Linked DNA regions of Homo sapiens. The protein of the gene in region 1 interacts with the protein of each later gene in a pairwise test. Each region holds a gene or a part of one and is shown on either strand. Other genes may lie near its edges.

Region 1 (8,187 bases):
CTCAGCTAATTTTTGTATTTTTAGTAGAGACAGGGTTTCACCATGTTGGCCAGGCTGGTCTCCAACTCCTGACCTCAGGTGATCCACCTATCTCAGCCTCCCAAAGTCCTGGGATTACAGGCGTGAGCCACCACACCTGGTCTTCTCTGTAGCCTTTAAGTCCTGGTGTCCACTCAAGAAATGAGAGCACGCTAGCTGAATGGATGAATGAGCACTTCCAGGTACCACTGCAACCATAAGGCATTCATCCAAACCTATGGGTATTCCACATTTTTAATGATATCCAAATAACCCAAGCATAGGTTAGATTTTGTTAGAGAATGGAGAGCTCACACAGATGAGTCACAAAAGAAAATTACTCAAGTTCCTGTGCCCTAGGCATCCTGGCAGGGCAAGAGGGTGGTAGAGAAGAAGTTCCCATGTGCACAATTACTTACTTGTAAGCCAAGGTCGCACTGAAATGCTGTTGGATGTAAGCCTCCAGAACGGTGTTGAAATGCTGAAATTTCCGGTCTGCAATGAGTCCTATTATGTAAATCTGAGGAAGATGCAAGGCAGCAGTATTTTCAGGGCAAACCCAGGGCAGGAAGCCATCTTTACCTGGCATAATTCAACCCCCATTAAAATCCTTTGCCCAGGAATTAGCTCACTAATACATAATGAGTTCTCTTTATTAAGGTAGCATCTTCCCAAAGAAAATGTTTCATGAAGTGTGCTGTGGGGTGTTATAAGATGAAAAGGATTTCATGGTCAAATAGGTTTTGAGAAATGTCAGGTTATCATTATTAGACTTTCTTATTGCAAAACTTTTTAGAATCTTTAATATACTTATGTACATTGTGAATCTCTAAAAGGGTCATGCAACATTCAACACTTCCCTAAATTAATTAATCAAAGTATATATTTGTCATGAAACATCTTTTCTGAGAGCTAGCATTCTAGGGTACTCTCTGGGGAAGCACTTGATTAAGCCACAGTTGTCTCTCAGTAACCTCTTTAAAAATGCAAATATCCATGACACAAGGGGTTAACACTTAAAAACTTTGTTGGGCACTGATTCCCTAATGCAGATGTTTCTTGTGTTTATTTTGACATAACACTGAGAAAATCTGAGTCGAGATAGGGAGAGGACAAAAAGACCATAGGGGAGGACTAAAAGAAGGAAGATCTGGATGGTACAGCATCATGAAAAGTTCTGGGTGGGTAGGAGAAATGTAATGATTAGTGAGTTGGAGGAAATGGGGAGAAGAAGGTGAAAGGAAAGCTAAGAAACATTTTTGGTGCTTTACAACCTAGCCAGGGACTAGCTCCCAACATTCATAGAAAGCAGAAGCAATCATTCACAATATCCAGCCTCATGTACCTTCAGCCAGTGTCAATCTGACATCAGCATTTAAAATTCCCCTTTCACCCACAATGCCTCATGCTTTCAAATGAACTGGCAAGAAGCAAAAGGAAATAGCAGCTCATTATTGGTCTTGTTGCCAAACATTACAACACCTCCAAAGAATTCATGAAAAAGGCCATGAGGGCCATGAGGGCCATGAGTTCTCAGTATTTTCACAGTAAGACATACATTAATGCCTGTTGTCACTAGACACTTTTCCCCTCTCTCTTACCAAGGCATCAAAGACGAGGATGTCATATTCATCACTTTGAGAATGCTCCATCATGATGTTGAAGAGGGCATCCAGAGTATCCTGGAGAAACTGGAAGAAATAACAAAGGTTGCACTACTTCAGAAACAAGACAAAGTACAGGTGAACCAGCAATCCCACTCCTAACTATCTATAAGAGAATGAGAGCACACATCCACCACATGTCATGCTCAAAACGTCTAGAGTAGTTTTACTCACGAGAGCCAGAAGTTGGAGGAACCCAACTGCCCATCAACAGCAGAATGGATGCACAGATGGTGGCATGTTCACACTAGAGAATACTACACAGCTGGACTAAAGTGCAAACTACTTCCACAGGCAGAAATGAGGATGATTCTCACAAGCATTATATGCAGTAAAATACATCAGGCACAGAAAGTACACTCTTCACTATTCCATTCTTATGAAATTTGAGAGTAGGCAAAAACCCATCTACAATGATGGTTGTCAGGACAGTGATTACCCCGGGGGACTACTGGCTGAGAAGGGGTATGAGGGAATCTACTATAATGCTAAAAGTGGTCTGTATCCTCTTCTGGGTGGTGAGTACACATGGTGTTTACGTGTGTAAAAATCCATTATGCTATACTCTTAAGATAACTGCTCTGTATCTATTTCATCATATGTATATCATATTTAAATAACAAACTTTTTTAAAAAAAAAAAAAGAAAAAAGAATGCAAGAGGAAGACAACAAAAGCCTCATCTCTTCCATGACTTCTCCAAGCTACCAAAAGGCTATAGACTTTATTAAAGTGGTGTCTTGGGGAGTTACTCTGCCATTGCTGAACGAGGTAGATGGGTCAGTGGTATACATTTACGGCATCTGGAAATTCTGCCACTGCTTCTCCAGGTAGAGGCAATTAAATAAAACTTGATTTTCCTCCCTCCTAAGGGATGGGTCAATATTTCCTATAATCCCTCAAAACACAGAGCTACCATATAAAGATGTTTAATCTCAGAATTTCTAGCTGTATCAAGGAAACAAGATCTCCAGGACCATTGGGAAACACTTGTCCCAATTCATAAGGCTGGAGAGAAGGGTTGCTTTAATTAGATTTGCACTTCAGACGCTTTCTATTCTCCACTACCATGTGGATGCAATAATACATCTGACATTTGCATTGTTTTCTGCTTATTTCACTTAAAATGTAAGCCCTGATGTCTTTCCCTTTCCCGTCTTTAATACATAATGCTCTCCAAGCAGCAGAAACCAAGAATACTTTTTATTTCTAACAATGATCTGTGGGTAGTACTAACAGATCATACTACTATATATATATGTATATATACATATGCACACATATATATGCTCACACACATACATACATATATATGCATATACATATATATCAACATATGACAACAAAAATAATAATTACCATTTATTGAACTTTGTTTTATATGCTTTGGTTTAATTGTTGTGTACTATGTGTAAGAGACTGTTGAGTAAGTTTTAAATATTATCACCTTGAATGCTCATAACAGCCCTGAGAACTATGTCACTTTTATATTATCACATAAAGTTGGCATGTGGGAGAGCTGGGATTTACACCCAGGCTCATCTATTTCCAGAGATTGAGCATAACCATTGTTTTCTGGCACCCAACATTCAGTGCCATTGAACCAAGTCACTCCCCTGGATTTCCCAATAAAGATTCCTCAAGGCAACTCGGGAGAGTGTATCCTACTGTTGGAAGAAAAGTTTCCCCATGTCCTTCAATACCTTGTTTTTCCCCTGAAGCCACCCACATGGAGAGTTCTGTCACTAGTGTAAGAATACAATCAAAATGAAGCCCCACTGACCTTCACCACTTCCTCTCCATCCACAATCTTCAACTTTTCTAAATTCTCCTGTAGCAGTTGAGGCTTCATACGCCACTTCAGCAAACCCAGCAAGCCCACTAAAATAGAGTCCAGACATTCAGAAGTATCATTACTGGCCTAACTGTCCATATCAGGACCTCCTTGGGTCTGCAAGCACATACACACATGTACACACACACGGACACACACACTCCCCACAGACACAACTCTTGATGACCCGATTACCATTCTGAGTGAGCTTTGTGGAGCACACCAGGGTGGAAATGGAGAACACATCCCGGGAGCTGACAGAAAGCCCCCCAACACTGCTGGAGCTCCTGCTCAGCGTGGCCCCCTTGTTTTCCACATGGTGTCGATAAGAAGGAAGGGTCAGGTATGCGCTGGCATCCTCCATCTTCTTGCTGTCCCCCTGGAAACAACACTTGGTTACTGCCCCAAGCCAAGGCTCCATGCCCAATGCCACACAGAGCCTGCAGCAGACAAATTAGACACTGTGAAGTGGGGAGAGTCATAAAGAGTGAAGAAAATCATCAGAGAAGCAATAGACATTGGCTGGTGAGGCAGGACTGTTTTTCCACAATACAGGTAAGAATTCAAAGACACATTAATAGAAAGGGGGTTGATCCACCAGGTGAAAGCTCTGTGAACCTCATTAATGGCAAAATAAAAACGGAATTGAAAATTCCCAGACAGTACATTTTAATTCATCCTTTTTTTGAGACCATAATATCTGCTCACCAGCAAAATAAGGACTCTAGCTTAAAGAGGAATTTAATGGCAAAGGCACTAAGTAAGAGTGTGCTGGGATCTGGACCCTGTTTTGCCATTCACAGGTCTATGCTATCTTGAATACACTATTTTGCCTCTTTGTGTCTCATTTTTTTTTTCATTAGTAAACTGAAGACAATCATCATCCCTACTTCCTAGAATACCTGAGCAGATAATATGGAATAATGCATATAGAATACATAGCAGAGTGATACACACATAAATGAGTGGCATGTTAAAATGAATGACTAGAGGTAGGCATTACAGAAGATAACATTTATCTTACTCCGCACCAGGAGTGAAACCAAGTGTTTTATATGTCTTGGTTCATTTCATTTAAGCCTCATAACAAACATATGAAGCAGACACTGTTATTATCCTCAGTCAAGGAAACTGGGACCTAATGGGGGTAAGTAAAAGAAAATTGACTGCAACTAGGCCTCTGACCCCAAGGAGTTCACATTCTGTCAGGGAAGAAGGGCTTTCAAGCCAAGAATTCTATGTGTGATAAATGAGAAAACAGAGGCTGTACAGAAGAAAGGGGGTTTTCTGGAAAAGTCAGAGAGACTCAGAGAAGAGTACAAGAGTACTATGAGATGAAGCCTTGACGAGGCTGTGTTTGCCATGCATCCCACAGGCAAAAGGGCAATTTCAGCCTACAAGGCTAAGAAAGCCAAGGGCAAGGGTGTGATCCATGTGCTGGCTACTCAACCTTGCTCCACCTCACAGCCATACACTTGCCTCCAGCCAGGTGCTAGTAGATGCATTCTGTTGTCATAAGAGGACATGTGGAAAAGCAGCAGGTAAAAACCAGACAAATGCTCCTCCATGTCTCAAAAACAGTCCAAGTCTCATAATGTAAAAATAAAAATAGTGGACATCTGCACTCCCTTTATAGTTTAGATGGCCATTTTTCATGGGTCATCCTAGTGGGTTGTCATAAATATTGCCACAACTGCTTAAGAAAAAAGAAACTGAGACTCAGGAAAATATGTGAGATGAGTCCAGGCTTAGTCAGCAGCAGGATCAGGACTGCAGGTTTTAATATTTTCCCATTAGCTACAATGCAGCATCTCTCAAATGTTTATTGTACATCCTCTACACATGCCACAGAGGTCCCTACAGAGTCAAGAGTATATAACAGTCATTAACAATAACCTTTCTGTAAATAACAATAACCTTTTCCATGTATTGAGTTCTTCCATGTACTCATCATTGCTATGTTTACATCCACTGTCTCATAATTTTCACAAATATTCACTGAGGGCACAAAGATGAGGAAACAGAGGCCCAGAGAAGTCAAGAGTTTATAAGAGGCCACAAAGTTGGTAAACTCTGGTGTGTGTGATTCTGGGGTCCCTGCTGTTGACCACTAAGCAATTTTGCCATCACCCCCTTTCTTCCTGCACTCCCCTCAGTGCAGAGCTCCTTCCAACTCATGGTACCTTGAGGACAACTAAGTCATGGAATCCATCGTGTAGAGTAGTCCCATCTTCTTTCATCAGCTTCACATAGGACATGGCAAAGTTCTTTTCTCCTTTATCTTTAGCTGGAAATAGCATTGTGGGGTCAGGAAAGAAAATGATACATGGGCCACCCAGCTCTTCCATTCTTCTCCCCTTAGGGGGAGGTGCAGAGATGCCATTCAGTATGGTACTCACATTCCAGAGATGACCGATGTCGAAACATGAATCGCAGATGGATCCTCTGCATGTCTTCAATAGGGACAGCCACCTCAGCAGACAGAAACAGAGCTCAGAACACAATGAGTTAAAGGGCCCTCCCCACTGCACCCCCCTACACACTTCCACAGCAGCCTGACCATTTAACTGAGAGAGCTGCCTGCTGATTTACAACCCATCCATTGAGGCTGATGAACTGTAAATAAATTACAGAAGAACTAGCTATGAAGAGAAAATAAAGTACCAAATGTAATCCATTTGGCAAATTGCATTCCCAGCCAATGAAAAGAGGTCTGTAAATTATAGTGAGGAAAAATGAGTCTCCCCAAATTGATATAAAAGTCACATAACTTTAGCACAGGATTTGATGCACTGCAAACTGCACAATGCACATTTTCCTTACACACTCCAGGAGTTCTGGCAATTGCAGCAGGGCTTAGCAAATTAACAATGGTTGTTAGGGGGTTTGCTTGAGGAATCTCATTTATGCAAATTAATAAAAATGCTTTAATCCAATAATATTTGGAAAAATCCTAGGGCTCATCTCACCCTTGATCAGACACATGTCCAGATGTTTTTGATTCCAAGGACACTGAGCTAAGACAACAACCCACTGGTCACCCAGGCATCCCTGTCCAGTGAATGACCCACTGGTACCACTGATTGTGATGCTTTCAGCCTGGCTCTGTGCTGCCCACCTCCCAAAGTCTCACAGCTCCTCTGCAATCTGAGATTCAGGCCAATGCGGAGAAGGTTAGCTACCTGAGAGAAGGACACTGATTTTAAAAAGGAATACATTTGTACTGTACAGATGCCTATTAAACGCCAAAACAAATGTATACTTGGGGGCACTTTCTGTTGCAGAAAATGAGGCTTGAGCCTGAGGAGGTCCACCATCCTGTCTATGTTTCAGGCAGAGCAAAGGAACTGAGGGTCTCATGGGTAACTGCAGCCAATTCATTCTTTCCCTGAGTGTTGAATGTTCACTAGAAGCTACAATCATGTGGGGTGCTGGCCATGCTGATACAAGGCAGAGTCCTCACACTCAAAGAGCTCATTGTTCCGTGTTACACATGGGGCAATGTGTAACAGCCCTGTGACAAGGGCTAGCAAGGAGATACAACTGAGGTGCAAGAGAGAACAGAGAAGGGAAACCTGACCTGGTACATTAACTTTCTGACCACAGAGTTGACCGGGTCATCAATTCGAAGGCATTGGGTATGGGGAGACACACTGAGCAAAGTAATAATATGTGTAATAAGTGGAGAACCGCTGGGGTTTGAATAGCTCTCACTGAAAAGGAAGTCAAGTGTGCATCTTGTGTTTGGAGTCAGAGCCCGGGGGGAATAAAGAATGCTGCTAATGATAAGGCAGAGATATCTGAAGCTATGATCAAGCTGCAGTGTTCACTGAATTAATTCCAAATCCTTATTCCAATGCAGGTTATTCCTTTCTGCTTAGTGTGACGATCTGGTAATGTAATATTTGTAGTTAATGTCACTTCTGTCAAGGAATTATTCCAAAAGGGCATCTTTCAGGCATTATACAGCCTGTGATAGGCTCACATTGGCTTGCAAGCTCTGTCACTCCTCATTGCTGAGTAGAATGGTGCAGCTTGATGAACTGGGCACCACCCACAAGAGGACTATTTGACAATTCCACTTTGGTTACATCCTGCACCAAGGAAGGGTGATCAAGGGAACCAGGGTGCTCACCCACCTGGCCTCCATTTCCACTGGCTGACAATACCACCAGACACATGCTAGGGGGTCATTTCAGATTCAGAGAGGTGCCTCCAAGGACCCTAAGCTCTTACAGATGGTGACTTCTGCTATAAACTAGAGCTAAAGAAGTTTTTCTGTCACTCTATGTCCCTCCAGTATGTTCATGACTGGCCTCAGAATTGAGTTAGATATTTCATGAAGAGAAACATAATATATTCTCATATGTTGTTCACAATCACATTGATCCATCAAGCCTCCCACCTGCTTTGGCTAAAACAAAGAATTTCTAAAATATGTTCAACAGAATCCTAGCCCCAGGATATGACACTAGGAAAAAGGAAAATGCTCGGTAGTCAACGAGTTTTGGGACGTGCTCTGCATTCTTATTTCCTTTTGCAGGTCTGCAGAGCACATTTACATCTCAAGGGCTCTAAGAACTTGACATAAGGAAGCCTTTAACTTCTATATTTGTTCTCAAGTTTCTCACATTTGACCAGGAAATGTTATTTTAATACATTTAACGTATGA
Region 2 (7,016 bases), on another chromosome or scaffold:
AAGTTGGTTTCATGGTAATGGAAGGCAGAGCTCACTTTTCAAGTTAGGGGGTAAAGGAAAGGGAACCAACACGAGCCAGGCACTGCGCTAAGTACCTCATGAAATGTATTTCACTTCACCCTTGCAACCACCCTACCAGGTAGGTGTTAGTTTCTATTGTTGCATGTGTTCCTTATTCTTTTTTTTCCCTCTTTTCCTGCCCTCTTTGGATTATTTTCTTGTCTTCCATTTTATCTCCACTGTTGACTTATTAGCTAGGACTCTTTTTTTAGTTTTTATCTTTTTAGTGGTTTCTCTAGGGTTTATAATACACATATTTAATTATAGGTAGATGTTCTAACTTCAATTTACGTATCAGGAAACTGGAATTCAGGGCAGTTAAATAATTTTTGTAACATGTCATGGCTTCAAACTGGTGGATCCTTCACTCCATTCTTACATTATCCCAAATTGAGAACTAATTTTTTTTTAAAGCCATACCTTAACCCAATCAAGGACTCATTAGCAGTTTGATTTGTGTGTCAGAAACTCCTAAAGTGCAATCCATGGGATGTATCCCATGAGATATTAGGATTTCATGGTGAAAAAAGGGCTTTTACGGTCAAATAAGTTTGAGAAATAGTGGGCAAATATATTAAATAGTTCACTTTTATAGCACTTCCCAGAGCTTATCATACACTGAAATGTACTATGAAAATGTAATAATGGTGGTGACCCTGACAAATTTATTTGATGCTGGAACCATTTTTCCAGAGTATTTTCTGAACTAGTGTTTCTTCAAACGGACTTTGGAAAATGCTGCTCTAAGAGAAAGTCAGTGTTTCCTGTCACCTTATGCCAGCTTTCTCAAAGAAGACTAAGTATTGTTAGGTAGTAAGAGCACTTTATGGGGTCCTGCCCCTGAGTGAGCCGTGGTCCTTACCTGTCATGAAGCACTTGATGTCCTGGGAGTTGCTGATGGGGTTGTTGTTTTTGAACATATAGAGATTAAAAGGCATGACGTTGCTGCTACTAAGGTGCTTCCACAGCTCGTGGTCTGGGCTAGTCCAGCGTCCGGCCAGCACATCATAATCTCGCCGGCCCATGTGGACAAGCTTGGTGAGTGGATCATAGAGGCCACCATGGTAGCCTATGATGATCTGAAAGTTGGGGTTGGTATCCATGTAGATCTCCCCATAGGCTGTGTACAGGATTTGCTTGATCATCAAACCTGTTCCACTAAAGACAGCAAGAGGGGTCCCGATGTTGTCACAAGCTATGTAAAACTCATCACCACTGCTCAGCTCCATGGCAAAGAGGTGTCCTTGCAAGTCGTAGTAGAGGGAGGTGATCTCAGAGCTGGAGTGGTTGTACAGGTGGGTGACCTTGGTGGGGTTGGTCAGGTCTGCATAGAAGAACTGCAGGTGGTGGCTGTGGCTGCTCTTGCTGGACACGCGCCGCCCCAGGCCATCGTAGCGGTACCTGACACTCCAGCTGCCAGCCCGGTTGTAGGCCTTGATGAGCAGGCCAGCTGAGTTGTACTCAAAGATATCACCGCCCCGCTGCCTCAGGAAGCCATCCTCATCCATCTTGTATTGCACGTCACCCAGCCGAGTGATGCGGTCGCGGATGTCATACCGTAGTGGTGTGAGCCGTGCACTGTTCCCAGGGCTCAGTAAGTGCAGGTTCCCATTGAGGTCGTAGCTGTAGCGCCAGAGTGGCTTGTCATTGATGGAGACTGTCTGCAGCTGGCCGTCAGCATCATACTCATAGGAGTAGCGAGTGGTATTGGCGTAGGGTCCTACCTTCAGCTCCTTCTTCACTACTCGCCCCATGTTATCATACTGGACGGTCATCCAGTACATGAGCGAGCGGAAGATCTCATACTGCACTTCCTTCATCCTGCCATATGCATCAAAATGCTTGGTGTGGGTCATGACAGCTGTGGTGATGATCTGGTTAATGTCATAGTAAATGACACCAAACTTCCCAAACTGCTCTGTCTTGCCTGACACATCATCATAGCGATAGAGATCAATGGGCAGTGGGGTCTCGTTGATCACAGCCTGCATGCTGGTCACCCGGAAGCTGTTGTCATAGTTGTAGTCAAAACGGGCGTTGACCATGCCTTCCTCAGTGAAGCGGAAGATCTGTCGGTCAATCAGGGGCCCAATCTGACGGTAGCGGATGGTGCAGGTGAAGCCCTCATTCTGTAGGTTGATGGTCTTCAGCATGCCTGCCGTCTCGTCATAGGTGAAACTGACCTTGGTGGTGTCATAGAGCGTCTCTGCCAGCTTTGACAGTTTGCCATACTTGTATATCACCCTGCGGCCAGTGCCCAGGTAGAAGGTGTGAAGGAGGTGCCCATCCTCAGTGAAGTCCTGTATGACTGAGGCATTGCCCTCAGGGGGCTGATAGATGTTTCTGTAGTAGCCCACTGAGCGGATGGTCTCTAGTGTCTGCCGCGCCACGTTGGGCATCGTCACAGAAGAGAGGCGGTCATTCTTGTCGAACTCAAAGATATACTGCCTCTGGCTGTGTAGTAGCAGCACCATGGACTGGAGGGAGAGGAAAACCAAGAGATGAGAGGAGGGTGGTGAGGAGAAAGGGTAGGTCTACATACCCGAGACTTAAAGGGACGGAATGAATGTCCAAGGAGAATCCTGAGTTTCCATGGTTCTCTTGAGTTATGCTCCAACCAGAGCTCTCCAACAGGAGTGTCACGGGATACTGCAAATAGGTTACAGATGTGCCAAGATGAGGCTTTCTCTCAGCCTCATCTTAGCACAGCTTTAACCTTAGCACACCTGTAACCTACCTGGGGCCTAGGCCTCCAGGTACTCAGGCCATTTGCTGTCCTATGGTGAGCAGCCTCGTGGGTTTGCCCCTTTGTGCAGGACAGACCTGGTTACTTTTGTGCGTGGTGGGGTGTGAGAACGGCCAAGAAGCTTTGGCCTGAAGTATGTACAGCAGTCTGGCTTCCTTGCCCCAGACTTCTCAAACCAATCTTCCTATTCAGGCAAGAGTGAGCTCCTCCAAACACAGTCTCACAATTTCTTTTACCTGCTAAACAGTTTCCGCTGACTCCCTGTGGCTTACAGCACGAAGACCATATTTGAGAAGGGCATTTAAGGCTTTGCACAATGACAGGTCATAAGCCTACTCTGGGATAGGGCAGACTGTGATGGGAATGGGAGAACCTGGTTTCTAACAATAGTCTCCTTGTGTGGCCCTGGGAAAGTTCTTCCCCTCTCTGGGTTTGGGTTTTCAGTATGTTGGATGACCTCCAAGGTCTCTCTCTCTCTTAGTACTAGCGCAAAATGTCACTTTTGGGGGTACTCACCCAGTGGGTAGAGGAGACCCACCTCAGAGCAAGCACAGCCTATGCCCTGGACAGGTCACCAGGGTCAGGAAACAAAGCAGGGATCTGGATACTTGAAATGGGGCATGCAGTGCACTTGTTCTCAGGAAAAGATCAGCAGATAAAAGGCCTAGAGGCTTTATGCTGCAAAGCTACCATTTTTTCCTATTTGAGACCAACTTTTGATTTTAGGTCATTTCTGATTCTTACCCCTGGGATGACATGAGTTCTGATGCTAGAGCAGAATAGATTTACTAAGGCCATGCCCAGCACTTGAAGCTCAGGAGTAAGTGCCTCCTGCCTATGTACTGATGCCTAGGCTTCTGCCTGGTTCTCCACAACTGGATTGTACCACATGCCCTAGACCTGGGAGCAGACCCTTGGCCTGGGTCTGAACCCCGAGTCCTGCTCTGCAAATCCAGTGAGTATTTGGGCCTCTACTCTATCAGGCAGGTCTTTCATGTTCTCCTGCCCTAGGACCACCACCTGCCATGCTATCTCCCTGATCCATCCTGATGCCTCTTGGGACCCCATGCCCTCTGTGGCAGACTTTCCTGAACATTTCCTTTTGGTGACATGGGTCAGATACAGCCCACTGAGGCCACCAGGCTGGGCTTGGCCGTGAATGATTGGCCTTCTGTATGGCAAGGCCAGTGATGCAGGGAGACAGACACCTGCCTTCTCTAAGTATGTGTAGCTCCATGTCTTCCCATCAGCGAAGATCCTGGATGTGATGCGGCCCGCCTGGTCGTATTCCATTCTTTCAGACATGATGCCCCTCTGGATGCCAGCAATGTAACCCCCAGGGGAGTATGTCACGTTGACACCATTCAGCCTGCTGCTGGGTGACCAGAGGCTGGGCCGCCCCGCCTGGTCGTACAGAATCCGAAGGGTGAACTTGCGGTGGTCATCATAGATCTTCTCTGTGCGTGTTACGCGATCAAAGTCCAGAGATAGGAGATTTCGGTTGTGAACCTGGAGAAAGGGTTGGAAGGAAAGAGAAAATTAATCTGGACCATGAGAACTTTGGTCTGATGGGCCACGTTGCTCTCAGCTCTGCTGGGAAGCTCTTGAGTAGAGGAGGGAGCACAGTCCTGCGCAGCAACAGACATGGGTTTGAATCCTGGCTCTGTCATTTGTCAGCTCTGTGAAGTTTCCTCACCTGTAAAATGGGGACAATAATGCCAATTGCACAGGGTTGTTGTGAGGATGAAGATGATCCCTATGTTGAGAAATCAGTAGCTGTGACCAAAGAGGATCTGCATGTTTTCTAATGTGATTCTTCTAATGAGGACACGTTTTAAAAGGCAGATCCTTCTTGACTCCCTGCTGAAAGGAGACCCACCAAGTGAGCCCAGAAAATAAACTGACCCATCTCTTCCACACCAGACACTGCGGAGACCAAAGCTCAGGGAGGTGAAGGGATTTACCCTGGATCTCGTGGCTGGTGAGTGACGGAGTCTGGACTTGACTCTCACACATACAACGTGCCCCCAAACACTCAGTGGCCCTCTGAGCAATTCGTGGCCTTCTGGGGGCTCTGAACTTCCCAGCCCCTGTCGGGTGTCTCCTGCTTGCCACTACAATCAGGGCTTCTTGATTGCCACAGTCAGTACCCAAGACATATTCTTCCCAGAGGTGCTGGGAGGCAGTGAGTGTTTGTCACTGGGATGGCTTTTCTGCCTGTGGGCCGAATGGGGACACAGTCCTGGCTTTGAGGCACTTTGCTCCTGCCTTCAGGATCGGGAGTGCCTTGTATAAACTCCACCTGGACTGCTAGGCCAGCACACAGTTCAATTTCCTTTCAGAGTCAGAAAGACAGGGCTCCTACAGACGTAGTGGTAGGTTAGGGTTTTTATATTTTAATAAAGAAATATACTTCAGGGGCCTGTTTCTGTATTTGGATCTGCCCTGTAGGCATTGGTGGCCCCTGAAATATTGCCAGGTATTCTGGAACTAAAATACTGGTTTCCGCTAATTGGTGTCTGGCCTTATGGGACATTTGGGCACATTTTCTGTCTCTTCCACTAGTCATTGCTTAAGGTTGACAAGTAATACAGAAGACCCAAGAGGAAAGCAGATAATTAGGTCACGTGATGCAAAATGGCATGTGTGGACCGAGGCAATGAAAGGCCCTCTGGATCCCTGTGTGGTTAAAAAAAAATGGGTGCAGGTCTAGGAATGAAGGCCAGGATTCTAGCTGCAACTTTGTGACCAACTTTTCTATCAACCTTGGGCAAGTGCCTTCCCCTATCCGAGTCTCAGTTTCTTACTCTGTATAACAAGAGTTGTTGTGAAGGTTGAAGAAACTTAGTAAATCAGTGGAGTGCTAGGCACATAGAAGGTACTGAATAGATGGTTGGAATTATTTCCATTAAATGACAGCAAACGATCGTGGTCATATCCCAGGAAGGAGAGATGTGTGTGTTTCCTCCTTCTCCCACACAAATTCTAAGGCCTTGAAAATAACGATTTATAATGACGATGCTGACTTTAGCTGTGAATGACCTGGTTATAATAAGGTTACCTTCTCTGGGGTAATCAAACACAATTGCAGATGCAAAAACAGTGTGGCAGATGATTCCCATGAAAAATCAGAGGCATTGGAGGCTGAAGCTGTGTTATTTGCAGACAGGGCACAGGAAGATACAGGGGCTGTGCCACCAACAATGACAGAGGCCTTTTTAAAGTATCTTTTGGAAGGTCCCGCTGTGACTCCCCTCAGGGTGGTGCCACCCAGCCAGCTGTCCCCCTTTCTCCCTGGAGGATCTCTAGTGAAGGGGAGCTGTACCTTTTTGGCAAAATTAATAAAATTAAACAGCTCACTGGGGAGCCGCCTAATGCGTCCTGTGCTCGGCAGTGGCGGCAATGAGATTATTTCACCTCTTTATTAAAAAAGTTCCCAGTTGTATAAAAAATGAACTCCATTATGGGGAGGCACACCCGGCTAACATTCTAATTCCACCTGCCACCACTGTGGGTGGCCATTTATTTGGGAGGACATGTAGACGTGGCCACCCGTCCCAATCTCAGGTTGGGAGAGGGACCAATTAAAGCCTGGGAAACTTTTGGTCCAGTTCACACAGCAGAGAGGAAATCCTAATCATGCTAATCGCTGCCATTTATTGAGCACCTGGAGTCTACCTGTGCTGGGCTAGGTGCGTTGATTGTATCATCTTGTTTCTGCAGAGGCACCTGAGGCTCAGAGGAGCTGCTCAAGGCTCCACATGGCACAGGCAGGAATCAAACCCAGGTCAAACTTCCCATTGAGGACACTGCCTCAGAGGCGCATGCAGGAGTCTGCGAATTCAGACGGGGGAGCTCAGTGAGGCCACAGAGAACAAAGACAGCTAGGCCTTCCTCGGGGAGCTAGTGCAAGGCTGTTTCCCACAGTAGATAGTCACTAGAGCTCTTGGCTGTTGAGGGAACAAACGAAGCCTGGTTTTCTGGGTTCCAGTTGTGTGATATTGGATAAGTCACTTACTGTTTCTGTAGCTGCTGTGGGCCTATTTTCTAGTTTTTTTTTTTTGAGACAGAGTCTTACTCTGTCGCCCAGGCTGGAGTGCAGCGGCGCGATCTCGGCTCATTGCAACCTCTGCCTCCCAGGTTCAAGCAATTATCCTGCCTCAGCCTCCTGAGTAGCTAGGATTACTGGTGTCCCCCATCATACCCAGCT
Region 3 (5,771 bases), on another chromosome or scaffold:
CACTGTTGGTGGGACTGTAAACTAGTTTAACCATTGTGGAAGACGGTGTGGTGATTCCTCAAGGATCTACAACTAGAAATACCATTTGACCCAGCCATCCCATTACTGGGTATATACCCAAAGGATTATAAATCATGCTGCTATAAAGACACATGCACACGTATGTTTATTGCAGCACTATTCACAATAGCAAAGACTTGGAACCAACCCAAATGTCCATCAATGATAGATGGGATTAAGAAAATGTGACACATATACACCACAGAATACTATGCAGCCATAAAAAAGGATGAGTTCATGTCCTTTGTAGGGACATGGATGAAGCTGGAAACCATCATTCTCAGCAAACTATCGCAAGGACAAAAAACCAAACACCACACATTCTCAGTCATAGGTGGCAATTGAACAATGAGAACCGTTGGACGCAGGAAGGGGAACATCACACACCGGGGCCTATTATGGGGTGAGGGGAGTGGGGAGGGATAGCATTAGGAGATATATCTAATGTAAATAACGAGTTAATGGGTGCAGCACACCATTATGGTGCACGTATACATATGTAACAAACCTGCACATTGTGCACATGTACCCTAGAACTTAAAGTAAAAAAAAAAAAAAAAGAAAGAAAAAAAAAAGAAACAGAAGTCATGATAGACAGAGGTTTTTGCTTCGGGTCCTGAACTGATTCAAGCTAAGCATTCACCCACGGAAGGTTGATTGATACTGGATCTGTGAGAAATACAAAGATTGGGGACCTAGGTCACCTTCTTGGGGCCTCCTACAAGCAGGGGAGTGGTAGAAATACCTCTGATGAGCTAACAATGTAGATTTCCATGACAGATGCCACTTCTGAGACTGTGAATCTAGAATGCTCTGAAGACTTGGCTAAGAGACAACAGCCACTTACTGTCATCATCGTTCAGGGATGAAGTAAAGGAGATGAAAACTAGGACATTCTCTTTGACTAGCATCAGTTATGAAAGATGAATAAGTTCAGTAGGTCTAATGTACAGTAATATGACTATAGTTAAAAACACTTTATCATATACCTGAAATTTACTGAGAAGGTAGATCTTAAATGTTCACACCAGAAAAATAAAAAGGAAATGGTAACTAAGTGACCTAATAAATATGTTATTCACAATCAATATATATATCAGAGCATCACCTTCTATACCTGAAATGTACACAATTTTTGTTTGTCAATTATACCTCAATACAGCTAGAAAAAAACGTATTTAGTTGATCTATTTAATTATTACAAAAATATTCTTATCTTCAACATAAAACTTGGGAATTTTCTGAACAAAAAACACTAATTCTGTGTTGCCTGCTCTATGATGGGTACTGGATAAATGCTTTGTGTACATTATTATTAACTATTTAACAAACTTTCAAAATAGGTATTAATGTTCCCCTTGTAGAGATGAGAAATTTGAGGCTGAGAGAGTTAACGTATTGTCATAGATTAGTTTCTCCCAGAAGAGACTTTGAAGAAAATATTCCAGGGAAACTAGTTTACTGAGAAGTGCAGATCACACCGGTAGGGACTGGGGAAGTGATACAGAAGAAGGCACACTATTAAGTCAGTATCACAGTCACCAACTAAAGCTTAAACTAAAGGGAAAACTATCAGAAATGATGAAAAACACACAGCTAGAATTACCCTACTTCAGGAATGAGGAAGCTAAAGTCTTTATAAATCAGCTCTCCAGAATCATTGGTTGAGTGTTTTTCTCTGTGTTGCATTCACAGGTGGCATGACTTTCTACAGCTGCAATACAAGAGCCCTTAGGCACAGAGATGCAGATTTTGACAGATGGAAATTGATCCAAGCACAGTAACATCCAAGATATATGGGTGCAGTCATGAAAACTTGTCTACAATCTACAATTAGCTCCACTCAAGTCAAATATTTGCTACTTAAATAGGATGGGCAGCCACAACCTCTAGGAGAAGGAAGAAGAGGAAGAGAGGAAGCAGAGGAAGAGAAGGGACAGAAGATGAGAGGAGAAGGAAAGAGAAAAGAAGGAAAGAAAAACAGAAAGACAGAGAGAAGGAAGGAAGGAAAGAAGGAAGGAAGGAAGGACAGGAAGGAGGGAGGGAGGGAAAGGAGGGAGCGGGGAGGAACTGAGGGAGGGGAAGGAAGGAAGGAAGGAAAAAAGAAAGAAAGAAAGATAAAAAGAAAGAAAGAAAGAGAAAGAAAGAAAGAGAGAGAAAGGGAGAGAGAAGGGAAGGGAAGGGAGGGAGGAAGGGAGGAAAAAAGGAAGGAAGGAAGGAAAAGAAAGAAAGAAAAGAAAGAAAGAAAGAAAGAAGAAAGAGGAAGGAAAGGAAAAGAAAGGAGAGGAAGTGAGATATAAAACGAAGGCCAATTAAATAATCTACACTTACTTCTGCTATAATACAGTGCACCTAAGTTTCATAAACTCCGTTAATTACCAAGAGTTCTATTCTCCCTTCACCCCTGGCCAGCACTCTTGTTGGTCTAGATAACTGCTGATAGAGTAGCTCAGAGCATCCTTCCTGAAGGGTCTGAGCCCCTGGTTACTATACCATTGTCCACCGTGATTGTTGTTTTTACTCATTTGTGGTTATCACTAGGCATGGACACACTGTGAGATTCTGCAGTGTTATGGGTTCATTTGCGTCCCTCAAAATTCATATTCAAATAGAATCATCTAAAGTGTTATCTGATAAGACAAGGTCATATTGGAAACAATTAGGCCTCTGATTAAATATGACTGTGTCTATTCACAAGGGAGAAATTCAGAGACAGTATGGATATAATAGAAAAATTATGTCAAACACACTTGGAGATGATAGACTTTGACACGTCAGGGAGAGAGACGTGGAACAGATACTTCCCTCGCAGTCTTCAGATGAAAACAACATTGCCAACACCTTAATTTCAGAAAAGAGGCCTTCAGAACTTTGATAAATAAATTTAAGCCACTTTTTTTCAGTAATTCATCAGGGCAGTGCTAGTAAATTAATATACTCAGTAAATCTCCTGAGCTATAGATATATTCTGCTACACTATATGGCTTGAGGGTAATTATCCCTCACCAAATAGTAACTACTTTCTCTGTCTGCTGCTTTGCTTATATGAAGAGTCCAAAATGACTAGGCGATAAAGATTACTTTTGTTTATGCCAAAGAAATAGAGAAGCAAATACTATACTTTTTATTCACATGAAAACTTTAAAAAACCAAAAATTACCTACAGGATTACAACTGATAGAGTGATTAGCTGTCTTTGGGAATGAGTAAGAGCATATAATTGGGAGAGAATGGAATTAATTTCTATTTCCTAACATAGATGTAATGGGGACACAGATGTATTTACAATATAATACTATATCAAGTTGAAAATTAATAATTTGCATTCTTCTCAAATGAATGGTATACCTAGAAAATGTTTTAAACATGTTAGAACTCCATGATGAATCAGGCATCATCTCAACTCATCTAATTCCTTCATTAAAAAGAAATAGAGAGAGAGAGAGAAGACATGCTGCTTACTGTGCTAGTAACCGGGTTGCGACTAGAGCCACAGCACATGCTGGTTGGCCTGAATCTCAAGCATTTATGCCATAGAGAGTCCTACATTCTCATTCTGGAATCGCCACGCTCACAGACAAGTCAGAATGAATGGTCACTCAGGGCATAGATTACTTGATGCTGTCTAAATCCCAGTGGATTTATCTGCATCCACCTGCTCTCGATCTGCTCTGCCACATGGAACACACTGTGACAAACACCCTCTTCCCAAGTGATGTTCAAAGAACTGAAAGACAGGTGGTGTGGGTTGCACAGAGAGATGCCTGCTAGTCTTGAGTCAGAATTTGGTGGGTGACTAGTCTTGGGCCCAGGCATGGATTCATTTTGTCACTGTAAATATATCAGCATCATGCTTCTCCCCACAGACACTTCCCAGTCTACATACAGCCAAACATGAGGCTGGCCAGAGAGAACTTCCTGAGCCTCCCAGATCAACAGGAACTATCACATGACCAGATGATGGTCAGAACAGGAATGATGCTGATGATGAGATTGCCTTCCTTTTATCTGAAACAAAGTGTCTATGAGTAATTCACAATTAAGAAACAGATTAAACCTTAATCTGTTTAACCTTAAGGAAACAACTACCCTTTGAGAATCACAAACGGACTGGGAAAACAATGTAAACGGAAACAAGGAAAAGTCCTGCTGATTGGTGGAAACTTTGGAGGCCAGGTGTATAAAAGGTCCAGATTGCAAGGGGTCATCAGATTCTGGGAAACTCACCTCTGAACAGAAGCCCACCCTCTACCCCTGACACCATGACCCACTGTTGCTCCCCTTGCTGTCAGCCTACATGCTGCAGGACCACCTGCTGCAGGACCACCTGCTGGAAGCCCACCACTGTGACCACCTGCAGCAGCACACCCTGCTGCCAGCCCTCCTGCTGTGTTTCCAGCTGCTGCCAGCCTTGCTGCCGCCCAACTTGCTGTCAAAACACCTGCTGCCAGCCCACCTGTGTGACCAGCTGCTGCCAGCCTTCCTGCTGCAGCACACCCTGCTGCCAGCCCACCTGCTGTGGGTCCAGCTGTGACCAGAGCAGCTCCTGTGCACCTGTGTACTGCAGAAGAACCTGCTACTACCCCACAACTGTCTGCCTGCCTGGTTGCCTAAACCAGAGCTGTGGCTCCAACTGCTGCCAGCCCTGCTGCCGCCCAGCCTGCTGTGAGACCACTTGCTTCCAGCCCACCTGTGTGTCCAGCTGCTGTCAGCCTTTTTGCTGCTGATCAAGTCCCAAGAGAACCACCATCCTCACACAACAACTTTCTGCTCAACTGACTTATCTTTTGGGGGACTAATTTAATTTGCTGCTGACAGCCACCATGCTCTCACCCAAATTTTTATGAATTCTCTACCTGTTTAAAATCTTGGGAATCTACTTGAGGGAGGGCAGAATACTTCATCCTGATTCTCTTTTTCCTTACACTTTGTGGATCATGTGCCAGCTTCGTGTGTTCTCAATTTTGAGTCATGGTCTCAGCTTTGACTCAAAAGTCAAGAGCTTCATTCTCTGCTTCTAAGGAATTTAGGTTTCTGCAACTGATCAATAATCTTTGCAATCATATTTTTGTTTTCAATATCCTCCTCATGGTTCTTGTATCCTTCTTTCTTCTTTTCATAACTTTGGGTTATGTTTCTGCTACCAGCAGAGATTCTTAGCTATATGTTTCTGAATAAACTCTGAACCATCCTCATCTCATATGGTGTTTTGTTTTATATGAAAGCATTCCTGATATGAGATTTACACACATATCACATACCATAGGTATTATCCAATTTGATTCTCAAAACAGATGGTCGTGTGTTATTACCTCCATTTTTTCAGCTGAGAACAATTTAATGTGTGATGTTATGTAGCTAGTAAAGGGCAGACTCTTGTCCAAGCTGAGGTCCTCTCTTTCTGCCCAAGGACACTTACATTTAACTCTCAATATAGTAGAAATGACATTGGAAGTAAGTATTAGCAAGTCATATACTTGAGTTTTTTTAACAATAGGACAAATAATCTCTTATATTTGCAGATAACGTTTTTGTTTACAAAAAATTCCCAATTTCCCACACCTCAGTGAGAAACAGCTGCGTGATATGGCAGCAGGGACTGCATTTAATGGCTGCCCTGAATGCAGGGAGCTCTTTTTGTCTCAGCCTCTGACCAGCCACTCATTCAATTCATCTACATCAAAAAAAGCTTGGGAATTTATTGTGGACTC

Evidence for each region. Proteins that work in one complex are often made in the same cells at the same time.
Region 2: the proteins of DOCK2 (region 1) and TENM4 interact in binary tests that used the Homo sapiens proteins (3 or more experiments, as listed by UniProt).
Region 3: the proteins of DOCK2 (region 1) and KRTAP9-4 interact in binary tests that used the Homo sapiens proteins (3 or more experiments, as listed by UniProt).

The regions. Positions count from the first base shown.
Region 1 is NC_000005.10:169,709,735-169,717,921, reverse strand, and holds part of DOCK2 (dedicator of cytokinesis protein 2), read right to left. Parts: intron 5,988-8,187; coding exon 5,915-5,987; intron 5,803-5,914; coding exon 5,699-5,802; intron 3,895-5,698; coding exon 3,711-3,894; intron 3,563-3,710; coding exon 3,465-3,562; intron 1,710-3,464; coding exon 1,620-1,709; intron 539-1,619; coding exon 438-538; intron 1-437. UniProt on the Homo sapiens protein: Involved in cytoskeletal rearrangements required for lymphocyte migration in response of chemokines. Activates RAC1 and RAC2, but not CDC42, by functioning as a guanine nucleotide exchange factor (GEF), which exchanges bound GDP for free GTP.
Region 2 is NC_000011.10:78,668,015-78,675,030, forward strand, and holds part of TENM4 (teneurin-4), read right to left. Parts: intron 4,316-7,016; coding exon 4,019-4,315; intron 2,538-4,018; coding exon 923-2,537; intron 1-922. UniProt on the Homo sapiens protein: Involved in neural development, regulating the establishment of proper connectivity within the nervous system. Plays a role in the establishment of the anterior-posterior axis during gastrulation.
Region 3 is NC_000017.11:41,245,399-41,251,169, forward strand, and holds KRTAP9-4 (keratin-associated protein 9-4), read left to right. Parts: upstream 1-4,288; 5' UTR 4,289-4,322; coding exon 4,323-4,787; 3' UTR 4,788-5,255; downstream 5,256-5,771. UniProt on the Homo sapiens protein: In the hair cortex, hair keratin intermediate filaments are embedded in an interfilamentous matrix, consisting of hair keratin-associated proteins (KRTAP), which are essential for the formation of a rigid and resistant hair shaft through their extensive disulfide bond cross-linking with abundant cysteine residues of hair keratins.